Linked DNA regions of Homo sapiens. The protein of the gene in region 2 purifies or fractionates together with the protein of the main gene of each other region. This does not show direct contact. Each region holds a gene or a part of one and is shown on either strand. Other genes may lie near its edges.

Evidence for each region.
Region 1: the proteins of TLK2 (region 2) and CABIN1 purify together in Homo sapiens (affinity purification with mass spectrometry; 3 studies listed by BioGRID and IntAct, with this or other methods). This does not show direct contact.

What each region holds. Positions count from the first base shown.
Region 1 is NC_000022.11:24,014,274-24,021,303, reverse strand, and holds part of CABIN1 (calcineurin-binding protein cabin-1), read right to left. Parts: intron 1-7,030. UniProt on the Homo sapiens protein: May be required for replication-independent chromatin assembly. May serve as a negative regulator of T-cell receptor (TCR) signaling via inhibition of calcineurin. Inhibition of activated calcineurin is dependent on both PKC and calcium signals.
Region 2 is NC_000017.11:62,481,801-62,488,830, forward strand, and holds part of TLK2 (serine/threonine-protein kinase tousled-like 2), read left to right. Parts: intron 1-7,030. UniProt on the Homo sapiens protein: Serine/threonine-protein kinase involved in the process of chromatin assembly and probably also DNA replication, transcription, repair, and chromosome segregation. Phosphorylates the chromatin assembly factors ASF1A and ASF1B.

The DNA.
Region 1 (7,030 bases), on a different chromosome or scaffold from region 2:
TCATGCCTGTAATCCCAGCACTTTGGGAGGCTGGGGTTGGAGGATCCTTTGACTCCAGGAGTCCGAGACCACCCTGGGCAAGATAGTGAGACCCCCATCTCTAAAATAAATAAATAAATAAATAAATAAAATAAAAATTAGCCAGGCATGGTGATATGCACCTGTAGTCCCAGCTACTGAGCAGACTGAAGTGGGAGGATCACTTGAACCCAGGAGTTCAAGGCTGCAGTGAGCCATGATCACACCACTGCATTCCAGCCTGGGATACACAGTGAGACCCTGTCTCAAAAAAAAAAAATTTTTTTAAAGACAAATCAAGTGGAGAAAAAATGAGGAGACAGATGATTGATCTAAACAACATAACAGAGGAGATGATATAGATGTATATCAAACTCCACACCTTGATAACAGAAATGATATATTCTTCTCCAGTGCTCACAGCACATTCACACACACACACACACACAAAAACTGCTCATGTCACAAAGAAAACACCTTCCATCAAGTAAAGATACTAAAAACAACACTTGCCAATCATAATGCTTAAAACTAGAATTTACTAACACGACCATCACCACCAACAGAAGAAAGGTGTGTCTATCTAAAAATTTGAGAATCTCCTGATAAACAACTTCCAGATAAAAGGAAATGCAATGAAAATGTTGGAGAAATTTAAAGAAATACTAACGGACAGACATGGTGGCTCATGACTGTAATCTGCCTATAATCCCAGCACTTTGGGAGGCTGAGGCAGGAGTTTGAGACCAGTCTGGGCAACATAGGGAGACCTCATCTCTACAAAAAAAATTTTAAAATTAGCTGGGTATAGTGGCACATGCCTGTAATCCCAGCTACTTGGGAGGCTGACGGAGGAGGATCATTTGAGCCTGAGAAGTTGAGGCAGCAGTAAGCAGTAATTGCACCACTGTATGCCGGCCTGGGTGACAAAGTGAGACCCCGTATCAAAAATAAAAAAATAAAAAATAGATACTAACAAAAAAACACACATCACATGTGAAAACACAATGTAATCATCTAAGGGAAAAATAATTACATGATTATCTCCACAGAAGGGAAAGTCTGACAAAATTCAATATCTATTCATAATAAAAAATACTCAGGAAAATACAGAAATTGAGATACTTTAATATATAAATACACCTTAGTCCTAAAGCCAAAATCTTATTTCATGGGCAAACCTTATTTCAGAGGCATGTCCATTAATTTCAGAGATTAATATCAAGAACAAAGCAAAAATGTCCACTATCTCTGCTACTATCCACCTGTGCAATATTAGCCAATAAAATTAGAAGAGATAAATCAATTAGAGATATAAAAATGGGTAAAGGCCAAGCACAGTGACTCACGCCTGTAATCCCAGCACTTTGGGAGGCTGAGGTGAGTGGATCATCTGAGGTCGGGAGTTCAAGACCAGCCTGACCAACATGGAGAAACCCCGTCTCTACTAAAAATACAAAATTAGCTGGGCATGGTGGCGCATGCCTGTGATCCCAGCTACTCGGGAGGGTGAAGCAGGAGAATTGCTTGAACCCAGGAAGCAGAGGTTGTGGTGAGCTAAGATTGCACCATTGCACTCCAGCCTGGGCAACAAGGGCGAAACTCCGTCTCAAAAAAAAAAAAAAAAAAAAAAAAGGGTAAAGAAAAGCTATCACTAATTGTAGATAATATGATATACTACCTGGAAAACCCCAAAATCAATGATAAAATTTATTCAATAATAACTCAGCAGGCGGGGCATGGTGGCTCATGCCTGTAATCCCAGTGCTCTGCGAGGCTGAGGTGGGTGGATTGCTTGAGGTCAGCAGTTCGAGACCATCCTGGCCAACACGGTGAAACCCTGTCTCTACCAAAAATACAAAAATTACAGGCTCACGCCTGTAATCCCAGCACTTTGGGAGGCCAAGGCAGGAGGATCAAGAAGTCAGGAGTTCGAGGCTAGCCTGACCAACATGGTGAAACCCTGTCTCTACCAAAAATACAAAAAATCAGCCGGGCATGGTGGCGCATGCCTGTAATCCCAGCTACTCAGGAGGCTGAGGCAGGAGAATCACTTAAACTCAGGAGGCGGAGGTTGCAGTGAGCCAAGATTGCCCCACTGCACTCCAGCCTGGGCGACAGAGTGAGACTCCTTCTCAAAAAAAAAAAAAAAAAAAAAAAAAAAACAACACTCAGTGAAGTTGCACAATATAAGATTAATACATAAAAATCAATAGCCTTCATATATACAAACCATAAAAGAAGACATTATGGTAGAGAAAAATCCCATTTGCAATAGCAACAAGATCATTAAATACTTAGGAATAAAGTTAATTAAAACTGTGCAAGAAAAAGTTTAAATCACTATTAAAAGACACTAAAGTTAACTTGAACAAATGAAATGACATCCCCTGTTCCTGGATAGGATTCAAAAATATAAAGATGTCAGTTCTTCCCAAGTTAATTTATACATTCAATGCAATCCCAATACAAATACTGACAAGATAATATTGACAAGTTGATACTAAAATTCATATGGAAAAACAAAAATTTAAGACTAGGAAAACAATGAAAAAAAAACTGTAAGGGGGGATAGGTATAACAGACATTAAAACCTACTGTACAAAGCCTTCATAATGAAACAGTGAGGTACTGCTGCATATGTACACAAAAAGATGAGGTCCAGAATTAGACTCAAGTACATATGGAAATAAAAAATATGGCAAAGATGGCATCTCAAATCACTAGAGTCAAGATGAACTTTGTATTAAATACTGCTGGAACAGTATTCACTGTTGGAAAAAGATAACTCACAAGAATAAACTTGCAAATGAATTAGAAATCTAAATGATAAAAAATGAAACCATACAACTACTAAAGGAGATACTGGTGAATTCCTCTTTAACCTTTGTATTAACACTTAGTATTACGTAGTAGAGAAGGGCCAAATATGATTTAAAATTCACAAACAGTAAAAGAGTGATACATTTAACTACATAAAAATTTAAAAATTTTTGCATGACAAAAAAAAATTTAAAAACTCAGAAAAAAAATTAAAAGCTAACAAATTGGGAGAAAATATTTGCAACATATACCACTGACAAGGGACTAATACCCCTAATATACAAACAGCTCTTAAAAACTGAGAAACAGGATGGGCATGGTGGCTCACACCTTTAGTCCCAGCACTTTGGGAAGCCGAGGTGAAAGGATTGCTTGAGGCCAGGAGTTCAAAACCAGCCTGGGCAACACAGAGAGACTCCATCTCTACAAAAAATTTAAAAATTAGCCAGGGCATGGTGGTACACATCTGTAGTCCCAGCTACTCAGGGCAGTTGAGGTAGAAGGTTGAGGCTACAGTGAGCTGTGATCACGCCATTGCATTCCAGCCTGGGTGACAAGAGCACCATACTATTTTAAATAAATAAATAACGTTTTACAACTGAGGGACACAGCATTACTTACAATAGTCGAAAGGTGGCCTCCTTTAAGCTGAAGCTAAGAAAAAAAAAAAAATGGTGAAAGCAACCCAACTGTTCATGACAGATGAATGGCTAAACAAAATGTAGTATATACATACAATGAAACATTTATTATTCAGCCTTAAAAAGGAAGGTAATCCTGACACATGTCACAAAAAAGAAGGCAATTCCGAAATATGCTACAACGTGGATGAACCTTGAAGACATTACAGTAAGTCGAATAAGCCAGTCATAAAAAGACAAATATTGTACGATTCCATGTATATAACGTACCTACAGTAGTCAAATTCATAGAAACAGAAAGTAGAATAGTGGCCACAGGGCTAGGGGAGGGAAGAATGGGAATTCCTGTTTAATGGATACAGAGTTTCAGTTTGAAAAGATGAAAAAAGTTCCGGAGATGGATGGTGGTGATGGCTGCATAACAATGTGGATGTATTTAATGGCACAAAATGGCACACTTAAAAAATGGTTAAAATGATAAATTGGGTCAGGCGCAGTGGCTCACGCCTGTAATCCCAGCACTTTGGGAGGCTGAGGCAGGCGGATGAGGAGGTCAGGAGATGGAGACCATCCTGGCTAACACAGTGAAACCCTGTCTCTGCTAAAAATACAAAAAAATTGGCTGGGCATGGTGGCACGCGCCTGTAGTCCCAGCTACTCGGGAGGCTGAGGCAGGAGAATTGCTTGAACCCAAGAGGTGGAGGTTGCAGTGAGCCGAGATCGCGCCATTGCACTCCAGCCTGGTGAGGGAGACTCCATCTCAAAAAAAAAAAAAAAAAAAAGATAAATTGTATGTTGCTTATATTTTATCACAATTTTTTTTAAAAAGCTAAAGAACAGAAAAACAAAAACCTGGTAGACAAATGGAGAAAAAATACGAACAGATAAATCACAAAAGAAGACGCAACTAGCTCTAAAACATATGAAAAAATGTTCAAATCATTCATAGAGATATGCATATTAAAACAAAACAACACTAGACACTATTTCTCACTGCAAAAATTAAAGCATGACAGCACACACTGTTGGCGAGGTTGTGGAGAAACAGGCGCTATTCTCATACACTGTTGGAAATTGGTACAACCCTTCTGGAGGGAAATTTGACTATATCTGAGAAAACTACATATGCATTTACCTTTCAACCCAGCAATTCCACTTCTAGAAACTACCCTGAATATGTACCTCCAACAATACAAAAATACATATGCACAGAATTATTCACCGTGCAGCACTGTTTGTAACTGCAAGATAATGGAAGCAGCTTAAATGGCCATAGATAGGAGAGTAGATGAATAAACTATTATAACGTACTATGGTACATACTATGGTACATTCATGTAATGAAGTACTATGCAGCTGTAAAAATTAATGAGGCAATGTTCATAGCAACATAATTCAAAATAATGCATAAGTAGAAACCCAAAATCCATCAACTGATAAATGGATAAACAAAAGGTGGTATATCCATAAAATGGAATATTATTCAGCCATAAAAATAATGAAACACTGACAACATGGATGAACCATGAAAACATTATCCTAAGTGGAAGAAGCCAGTAACAAAATACCACATATTGTATGATCCCATTTACATGAAATGTCCAAAACAGGCAAATTTATAAAGTCAGAAAGTGGATTTGTGGTTGCCTAGAGCTGGGGGAAGACAGGATGGGAAGTAACTGCTAATTGCTAATGGATCAGGGTTTCTTTTAAGGGTGATAAAAATGTTCTAAAATGTATTGCGATGATGCTTGCATAACTGTGTATGTACTAAAAACCACTCAATTGTATACTTAAATCGGTCAATTGTAAGGTATGTAAATTATATCTCAATAAAGATGTTTTTGCTTGTTTGTGTTTTCTTGAGACCGGGTCTCGCCCTGTCGCCCTGGCTGGAGTGCAGTGGCGCGATCTCGGCTCTCTGCAACCTCTGCCTCCCGGGTTCAAGCGATACTCCTGCCTCAGCTTCCCGGGTAGCTGGGACTACATGCATGCACCACCATGCCCAGCTAATTTTTTTTGTATTTTTAGTAGAAAGGGGTTTCACCATGTTGGTCAGGCTGGCCTCAAACTCCAGACCTCAAATGATCTGCCCACCTCAGCCTCCCAAAGTCTGGGATTACAGGCGTGAGCCACCATGCCTGGCCTCAATAAAGATGTTTTTAAAAATTAATGAGGGGCCGGGCGCAGTGGCTCATGCCTGTAATCCTAGCACTTTGGGAGGCTGAGGCGGGCGGATCACAAGGTCAGAAGATCGAGACCATCCTGGCTAACACGGTGAAACCCCGTCTCTACTAAAAATACAAAAAATTAGCCAGGCGCGGTGGTGGGCGCCTGTAGTCCCAGCTACTCGGGAGGCTCAGGCAGCAGAACGGCGTGAACCCGGGAGGCGGAGCTTGCAGTGAGCCGAGATAGCGCCAATGCACTCAGGCCTGGGCAAAAGAGCGAGACTCCGTCTCAAAAAAAAAAAAAGAATGAAGAAGATCTCTATGAACAGATATGGGGTGATTTTCAAGACACACTATTCTTTTTTTTTTTTTTTTTTTTTTTTGGAGATGGATTCTCACTCGGCCGGTCACCCAGGCTGGAGTGCAGTGGTGCAATCTCGGCTCACTGCAACATCTGCCTCCCAGGTTCAAGCGATTCTCCAGCCTCAGCCTTCCAAGTGGCTGGGATTACAGGTGCCCACCACCACACCCGGCTAATTTTTTTGTATTTTTAGTAGAGACGGGGTTTCACCATGTTGGCCAGGCTAGTCTTGAAATCCTGACCTCAGGCAATCTGCCCACCTCAGCCTCCTAAAGTGCTGGGATTACAGGCATGAGCCACCACGCCTGGCCTAAAACATACTATTAAGTGAAAAAAGCAAACACAATTATCTATATAGCATGTCACCTTCGTATAAGAAAGAAGAGGATGTGAAAAAATACACAACTAACTGTTCACTTGTGCGAAAGAAACACGAGATAATCCAGATACCAAAGTTAGCTATACAGGGTAGGTGGGAAAGCGGTGAAAAGAAGGGGTGAATGGGAACAGGGCAGTAGGCATAAGAAGGGAAAGACACTTCTCTGAGTATACCTTTGTGTGTAGCTCTGACTCTCAGAAATCAGTCATAATTCATACCGCAAAAACAACTAAAATCAGCTAGGATGCAGGGGGAACTCAAAATGAAATATAAACACTAACAATGAACCTAACTATTACAACTAACATAACCACTCTGAAAGGCATGAGGAAGAAAGGAACTAACCTAAGTAACTGTAGAAAATGGTATCTTGACTGGATAGGCTAAAGACAAAAAGAACTGATTCCAGAGTTGGGTCAGAGAAAACACAAGATGAGCCTGGAACACCTTGTGGTGTGCCATAAAGTAAGTGCTTGAAGGAAAAAAAAAAAAATGAGGGCCAGTTGATAGGCCACAGAAGCTAACCTGAAGGAGATCCTAACTAAATAGCCAATGCTGGAACAGTAAGCAACAAAATAATGATGATAATGAATTTTAACTCATAGAATATAATACATATCCATGGCCTACACTGACACAT
Region 2 (7,030 bases):
CCTCTGCTCTCATAGGATGATTTTACAATGTGTAAAATGTTTGATTTTAATACAGTATGCAAAGTATATTTACGATATTTTATTTAAAAGCTTTATTGGTCCAAGATCATATTACTTGGGCTTGAGATGTGTGAACGTATGAGCTACTGAATTTTTTTTTTTGAGACAGAGTTTTCCTCTTGTCGCCGAGGCTGGAGTGCAATGGCGTGATCTCGGCTCACTGCAGCCTCCACCTCCTGGGTTCAGGTGATGATTCTCCTGCCTCAGCCTCCTGAGTAGCTGGGATTACAGGTGCCCGCCACCACGCCCAGCTGATTTTTGTATTTTTAGTAGAGATGGGGTTTCACCATGTTGGCCAGGCTGGTCTCGAACTCCTGACCTCAGGTGATCCACCTGCCTCAGCCTCCCAAAGTGCTGGGATCACAGGCAGGAGCCACTGTGCCTGGCTGAGCTTTTGATCTTTAACCAGTGTGATACAACATTTGTTTCTGTGCTTTTCAAGAAATCCTGTCTCATGGTAACCTGGGTGTTGATCTCGTGCTTTAGTTAGTAGCTTCTCCAAGGAGAAGGCGTGTTGAGGTTTAGTTGGAAAAATGGGCTTCTTTGATGGGTCTCACAGTTTTGGTGAGCCGGGATAGCTTGATAGGGTTTTGTTTTTTTTTTTTTTGAGTCAGAGCCTTGCTCTGTCACCCAGGCTGGAGTGCAGTGGCACAATCTGGGCTCACTGCAACCTCTGCCTCCTGGGTTCAAGCGATTCTCTTGCCTCAGCATCCTGAGTAGCTGGGATTACAGGCATGCACCACCATGCCTGGTTAATTTTTTTTATTTTTAGTAGAGACAGGGTTTCTCCATGTTGGCCAGGCTGGGTCTCGAACTCCTGACCTCCAGTGATCTGCCTGTCTTGGTGTTCCAAAGTGCTAGGATTACAGGCATGAGCCACCACGCCCAACCAGCTTGATAGTTTTTGTTTATTCAACAAATATTGAGCACCTGCTGTATGCTAGGCATTGTGCAAGGTGTTAGGGCTGATGCTTGAGCACAGTACCTCCACATCTGCAGTATGGGGAGAGAGAGATGATACCGTGATGAGATCTGTATTAGAGCTGTGACAAGGTGCTGTGGGAACACAGGATTTGTTACATATTCTTAATTTCTTTGGCCACTTAAACAGTTTACTTTTGTGGCACTTTAGAGTGGCTGTGCCCCTGGACGTTGTATACTGAAGTTACATTTACAAATGTAAACTCTCTGATCTAGGTGAAGTAGCTTCAAATAGAAGTGAGCAATATATTTGAATACTAAATTGATCTCTAAATGACCTCTGATGTGTCTTTTTAACTTGAAGATTGAGCATAAGGCTAATGTCCAGATCTGTCTGTTTAAATGGTCCCCCCACCCCCGCCTCCCGTAAGTCAGTAAGTTTGTATTCAAATTTTACATAGTTAAGCTCACTGATCTTTGGATTAGGGTTGTTGTTCTGTTTTTAGGTTCGTGATGGCTGTATTCAAGTATACTTTTGATGGAGTAGGGCATAAGTGATAAGAATGAGTGACATTCAACATGTTGCTGTCTAGACCCAACTTAAAGTCATGTAACTAAGGTATCAGAAAACTTTAATACAGTAACCTATCTGTTTAATAGGAAATTCTACCTTTAACATAGAAAGAAGTTCTCTGTACAGAAAAAGAAATTTACCTATTTCCAGTTTTTTTGTTTGTTTTTGAGAGGGTCTCACTCTCTAGCCTAGGCTGGAGTGCAGTGGCACGATCTCGGCTCACCTCAACCTCCATCTCCCAGTCTCAAGCAATTCTCCTGCCTCAGCCTATAGATAGCTGGGATTACAGGCGTGCGCCACTACCACCCTGTTAATTTTTGTATTTTTAGTAGAGATGGGGTTTTACCATGTTGGACAGGTTGGTCTTGAACTCCTGACCTCAAATGATCCACCTGCCTCTGCCTCCCAGAGTGTTGGGATTACAGGCATGAGCCACTGCACCCAGCTTTATTTCCAGTTGTTTTTATTCCATTAGTTGTTTTTTTTTTGAGACAGAGTTTTGCTCTGTCAACCAGGCTGGAGTGCAGTAGCACAATCTCGGCGCACTGCAATCTCTGCCTCCCGGGTTCAAGCTATTCTCCTGCCTCAGCCTCCTGAGTAGCTGGGACTATAGGCACCTGCTACCATGCCCAGCTAATTTTTGTATTTTTAGTAGATGGGGTTTCACCATATTGGCCAGGCTGATCTCGAACTCCCGACCTTGTGATGTGCCTGCCTCGGCCTCCCAAAGTGCTGGGATTATAGGTGTGAGCCACTGTGCCCAGCTTAAGTAGTCGTATGTTACTTTGATATTTCCAGTCACGGTAAGTATATTGATTACAATGAATTTGTTATTTGAGGACTAGCAGGAGAGTATTTTTTTTTTCCATAACAAAGAAACTTGAAGAAAAAAATTAATTCTGTAGTTTGCAGAGCCGGGAAAAGAAAATCTCCATTTCGTATGACTTCTTTTTTTTTTGAGACAGAGATTCACTCTTGTTGCCCAGGCTGGAGTGCAGTGGCGCGATCTCAGCTCACTGCAACCTCCGCTTCCTGGGTTCAAGCAATTCTCGTGCCTCAGCCTCCCGAGTAGCTGGGATTACAGGCACGTGCCACCATACCCGGCTAATTTTTTGTATTTTTAGTAGAGATGGAGTTTCACCGTGTTGGCCAGGCTGGTCTCGAAATCCTGACCTCAGGTGATCCACCCGCCTCAGCCTCCCGAAGTGCTGGGATTATAGGTGTGAGCCATCGCGCCCAGCCTTTGTATTACTTCTTTTACCAGTAAGACATCGTACCTCTCAGACTATTGATTTGAAATGGGGGTGTGGAGGGGATGATGATACTGGGAGAAAAGGGTGCTTTTGGAAAAACTCCTCTCCCTGGCTTTGAATTCTCATTTTGGATCATTATTTCCCAATAAGAATATCACTGTGTTAGGGCCAGGCACGGTGGCTCACGCCTGTAATCCCAGCACTTTGGGAGGCTAAAGCAGGCAGATCACGAGGTCAGGAGATCGAGACCATCCTGGCTAACACGGTGAAACCCCATCTCTATTAAAAAATACAAAAAATTAGCTGAGCTTGGTGGTGGGTGCCTGTAATCCCAGCTACCTGGGAGGCTGAGGCAGGAGAATGGCTGAGCCCGGGAGGCGGGGCTTGCAGTGAGCCTGGGCGACAGAGCAAGGCTCCGTCTCAAAAAACAAAACAAAACAAAAAAAGAATATCACTGTGTTGATGACAGCTTTGTTTTTCAAAGATCAAAAAAGATTTCAGCCCCTGCAGCTCCAAATAAGAGAGCAGAGTGACTTCCCTGTGATGGTGCCATCTAGTGGGACTGGTTCAGCCTCTTGGGCTGTCTCTTGAATTTCTCCTAACTATTCATAACATTTTTCAGTACTTTTTGATGTCCATAGAAGGAAGAAAGTCAGTGCCACTGTGGATTCTTTCCTAGTGGACAAGAGTGTTACAAGTAGCTACAGCCTTTGAACTTTCTGGTTGTTGTAAATCTTCTGTTGTATAACTTTCGAGTTTTTTCCACCTGCAAATTAGATATACACTCCATTACTTAGACTAAAACAAAATGGCCAAATCTCCACATCTATTACTTATATTTAAGTTGCTCATTACCTATATTTAGGTTTTTAATTTTTTATTTCTAATTTTCTTGCATAGTGCAAATTTTTAATTTTCTTGCATAGTGTGTTTATAGGTAGGTACTCAGTTTCTCAGCATATTTACTTCATAATAATGGTAAAACAAAAGTCATTTATTTTGGGCTTTGGGATGCACTATTTGGTTTTTGTTTAAAAGATTGACGTTTTCTGTCATGAACTGATGAGGGGAAAGTAGTAATGTGCACCCAAAAGTCTATAGCAGGCTCTCTAGTCTAGCTGCCCCTTTTTAGGAGGACCTGGAGCCATCGTCTTAGCAGTTTTGAGGTGATAAGGTTAAACTGGGTTGTGAACCTAGTAATTTTCTGGTTTTTTTTTTTTTTTTTTTTTTGAGACGGAATCTCACTCTGTCGCCCAGGCTGGAGTGCAGTGATGCAATCTCTACTCACTGCAAGCTCCGCCTCCCAGGTTCACGCCATTCTCCTGCCTCAGCCTCCCGAGTAGCTGGGACTGCAGGTGCCTGCCACCACGCACAGCTAATTTTTTGTATTTTTAGTAGAGACGGGGTTTCACCGTGTTAGCCAGGATGGTCTCGATCTCCTGACCTCGTGATCTGCCCACCTTGGCCTCCCAAAGTGCTGGGATTACAGGTATGGGCCACTGCACCCGGCTGCTAGTTCTTTATGTCTTGTTGACTTGACATGTGAGCTGTCCTACCTCTTTTTTTGAGACGGGGTCTCACTCTGTCACCTGGGCTAGAGTGCAGTGGCGCGATCTCGGCTCGCTGCAGCCTCTGCCTCCCAGGTTCAAGCGATTCTCTTGCCTCAGCCTCCCCAAGTAGCTAGGACTACAGGCGTGTGCCACTATTCTCAGCTAATTTTTATATTTTTAGTAGAGATGGGGTTTTGCCATGTTAGTTGGCCAGGATGGTCTCTCTCTCTTGACCTCATGATCCGCCCGCCTCGGCCTCCCAAATTGCTGTGATGACAGGCGTGAGCCACCGCGCCTGGCCTGTCCTACCTCTTTTTAAAGACCTCTTCCTGTAAGCACTGGATGATCTACTTCTAGTAATGTGAAACTGACTATATCTTGAATTCATATGTTTTCAATCAACCTGTTGCAGTTTATATTTCACACCCTGCTCCCTTTTGACAGTTTAAGTACAGATAGTCTCAGCAGTTCTGGAGACCATGTAAAGTAGGCAGAATTTCACCCTTGCATGCATTGTTACTTGTACCTAGTTGGATATCAATGCTAATACAGTAGCAAATACTTATAATACTGTGTGCCAGGTACTGTTCCAACAGTACAACAAAAGCAATAAGAAATGAATTTAGATCTTTTATAACAGGGATAATGGTTAACAAATCTGTACATAATCAACTCACTGGATTAATAGGCATTCTCCATTCTCTCTTTATAAGCCATACTGACTGATGCTTATCACATTGCTCCCACCAGTTGAATTATAGCCATGTCAATGATCATTTTACAATAACTTACACTTGTGTTGTAATTATTCTATTTAATACACAATTGCATAATGCAATGAAATATGATTGCAGGCTGGGCGCAGTGGCTTACGCCTGTAATCCCAGCACTTTGGGAGGCCGAGGCAGGCAGATCACGAGGTCAGGAGATCGAGACCGTCCTGGCCAACATGCCAAAACCCGTCTCTACTAAAAATACAAAAAATAAGCCGGGCGTGGTGGCATGTGCCTGTAATCCCAGCTACTCAGGAGGCTAAGGCGGGAGAATCACTTGAACCAGGGAGTCGGAGGTTGCAGTTAGCCGAGATCATGCCACTGCACTCCAGCCTGGGCGACAGAGCGAGACTCTGTCTCAAAAAAAAAAAAAAAGAAAGAAATATGATTGCAAAATGAAAGAATTGTTTCCAAGAGAACTAAGTTAACCGCCCTAGAAAGACTAGATAAGTCAGCACGCGCCTGTAGTCCCAGCTGCTCAGGAGGCTGAGGCAGGAGAATTGCTTGAACGTGGGAGGCAGAGGTTGCAGTGAGCTGAGATCGCGCCATTGCGCTCCAGCATGGCCAACAGAGTGCGCCTCCGTCTCAAAAAAAAAAAAAAAAAGTAAGTCAGCAAGGAGATATCTGTAAAAATTTATGATATTCTTTTAATCTGCAGGAATTCTTTACTTAAATCCTTGGCAAGTATCTTTTTTTTTTTTTTTTTTTTGAGACGGAGTTTCACTCTTGTTGCCCAGGCTGGAGTGCAATGGCATGATCTCGGCTCACCGCAACATCCGCCTCCCAGGTCCAAGTGATTCTCCTGCCTCAGCCTCCCAAATAGCTGGGATTACAGGCATGCGCCAACACGCCCGGCTAATTTTGTATTTTTATTAGAGGTGGGGTTTCTTCATGTTGGTCAGGTTGTTCTTGAACTTCCGACCTCAAGTGATCTGCCTACCTCGGCCTCCCAAAGTGCTGGGATTACAGGTGTGAGCCAGTGCGCCCGGCGGCAAGTATCTTTTAAGTTCTCACTTTTTTTTTTGGAGACGGAGTTTCACTCTTGTCGCCCAGGCTGGAGTGCAGTGGCATGATCTCTGCTCACAGCAATCTCCACCTCCCGGGTTCAAGCGATTCTGCTGCCTCAGCCTCCCGAGTGGCTGGGAGGTGCCCGCCACCATGCCCACCTAATTTTTGTATTTTTAATAGAGACGAGGTTTTACCATGTTGGCCAGGCTGGTCTCGAACTCCTGACCTCTGGAGTTCACCCGCCTTGGCCTCCCAAAGTGCTGGGATTACAGGCGTCAGCCACCGTGCCCGGGCCAAGGAACTCTTTTTCTATCTTTTATAAATTTTTAAGTCTGATACATCACATTATATAATCAAATTGACTTCTGAAAAGGTATTTAACCAACTGATACCTTTCTTTTCATGTAGTTCATTGCAGCAATTAGAAGCTTTCAGTTATGAATATCTAGTGTCAGCTTTTTCACATACCAAAGTCACTTTCATTTTTTAAAAATGTTTGTATGTCTTACATTTAATTACATGCCTGACAATTCTCAACAAGTATGAATGCTGAGAAATGGCCTATACTTATATTGATGCATTTTAAGGAACTGTGGATTAATTTACTTTAGTATTTATTTGATTTCCTCCTTATTTCACATGTAGTCAAGTACCAACACGTGCCTCTTTCTCTGAAATTTCTGAAGTGTTTTTCTGCCCCCATTGCTACTGCCTTAATCCAGACTGTTTTTATTCATAACTTGAAATTCTAGTTTGGAAGTCTTGCACTCTTTCTGTTCTTTTATTGGTTACCACAGAAATTACAACAGATATTTTTAACTTATCAAAGGTTAATGTTAATACCTTTGTCTTCCTCTTGGTCAGTACGAGGGCCTTGAAGATTTTTTTTTT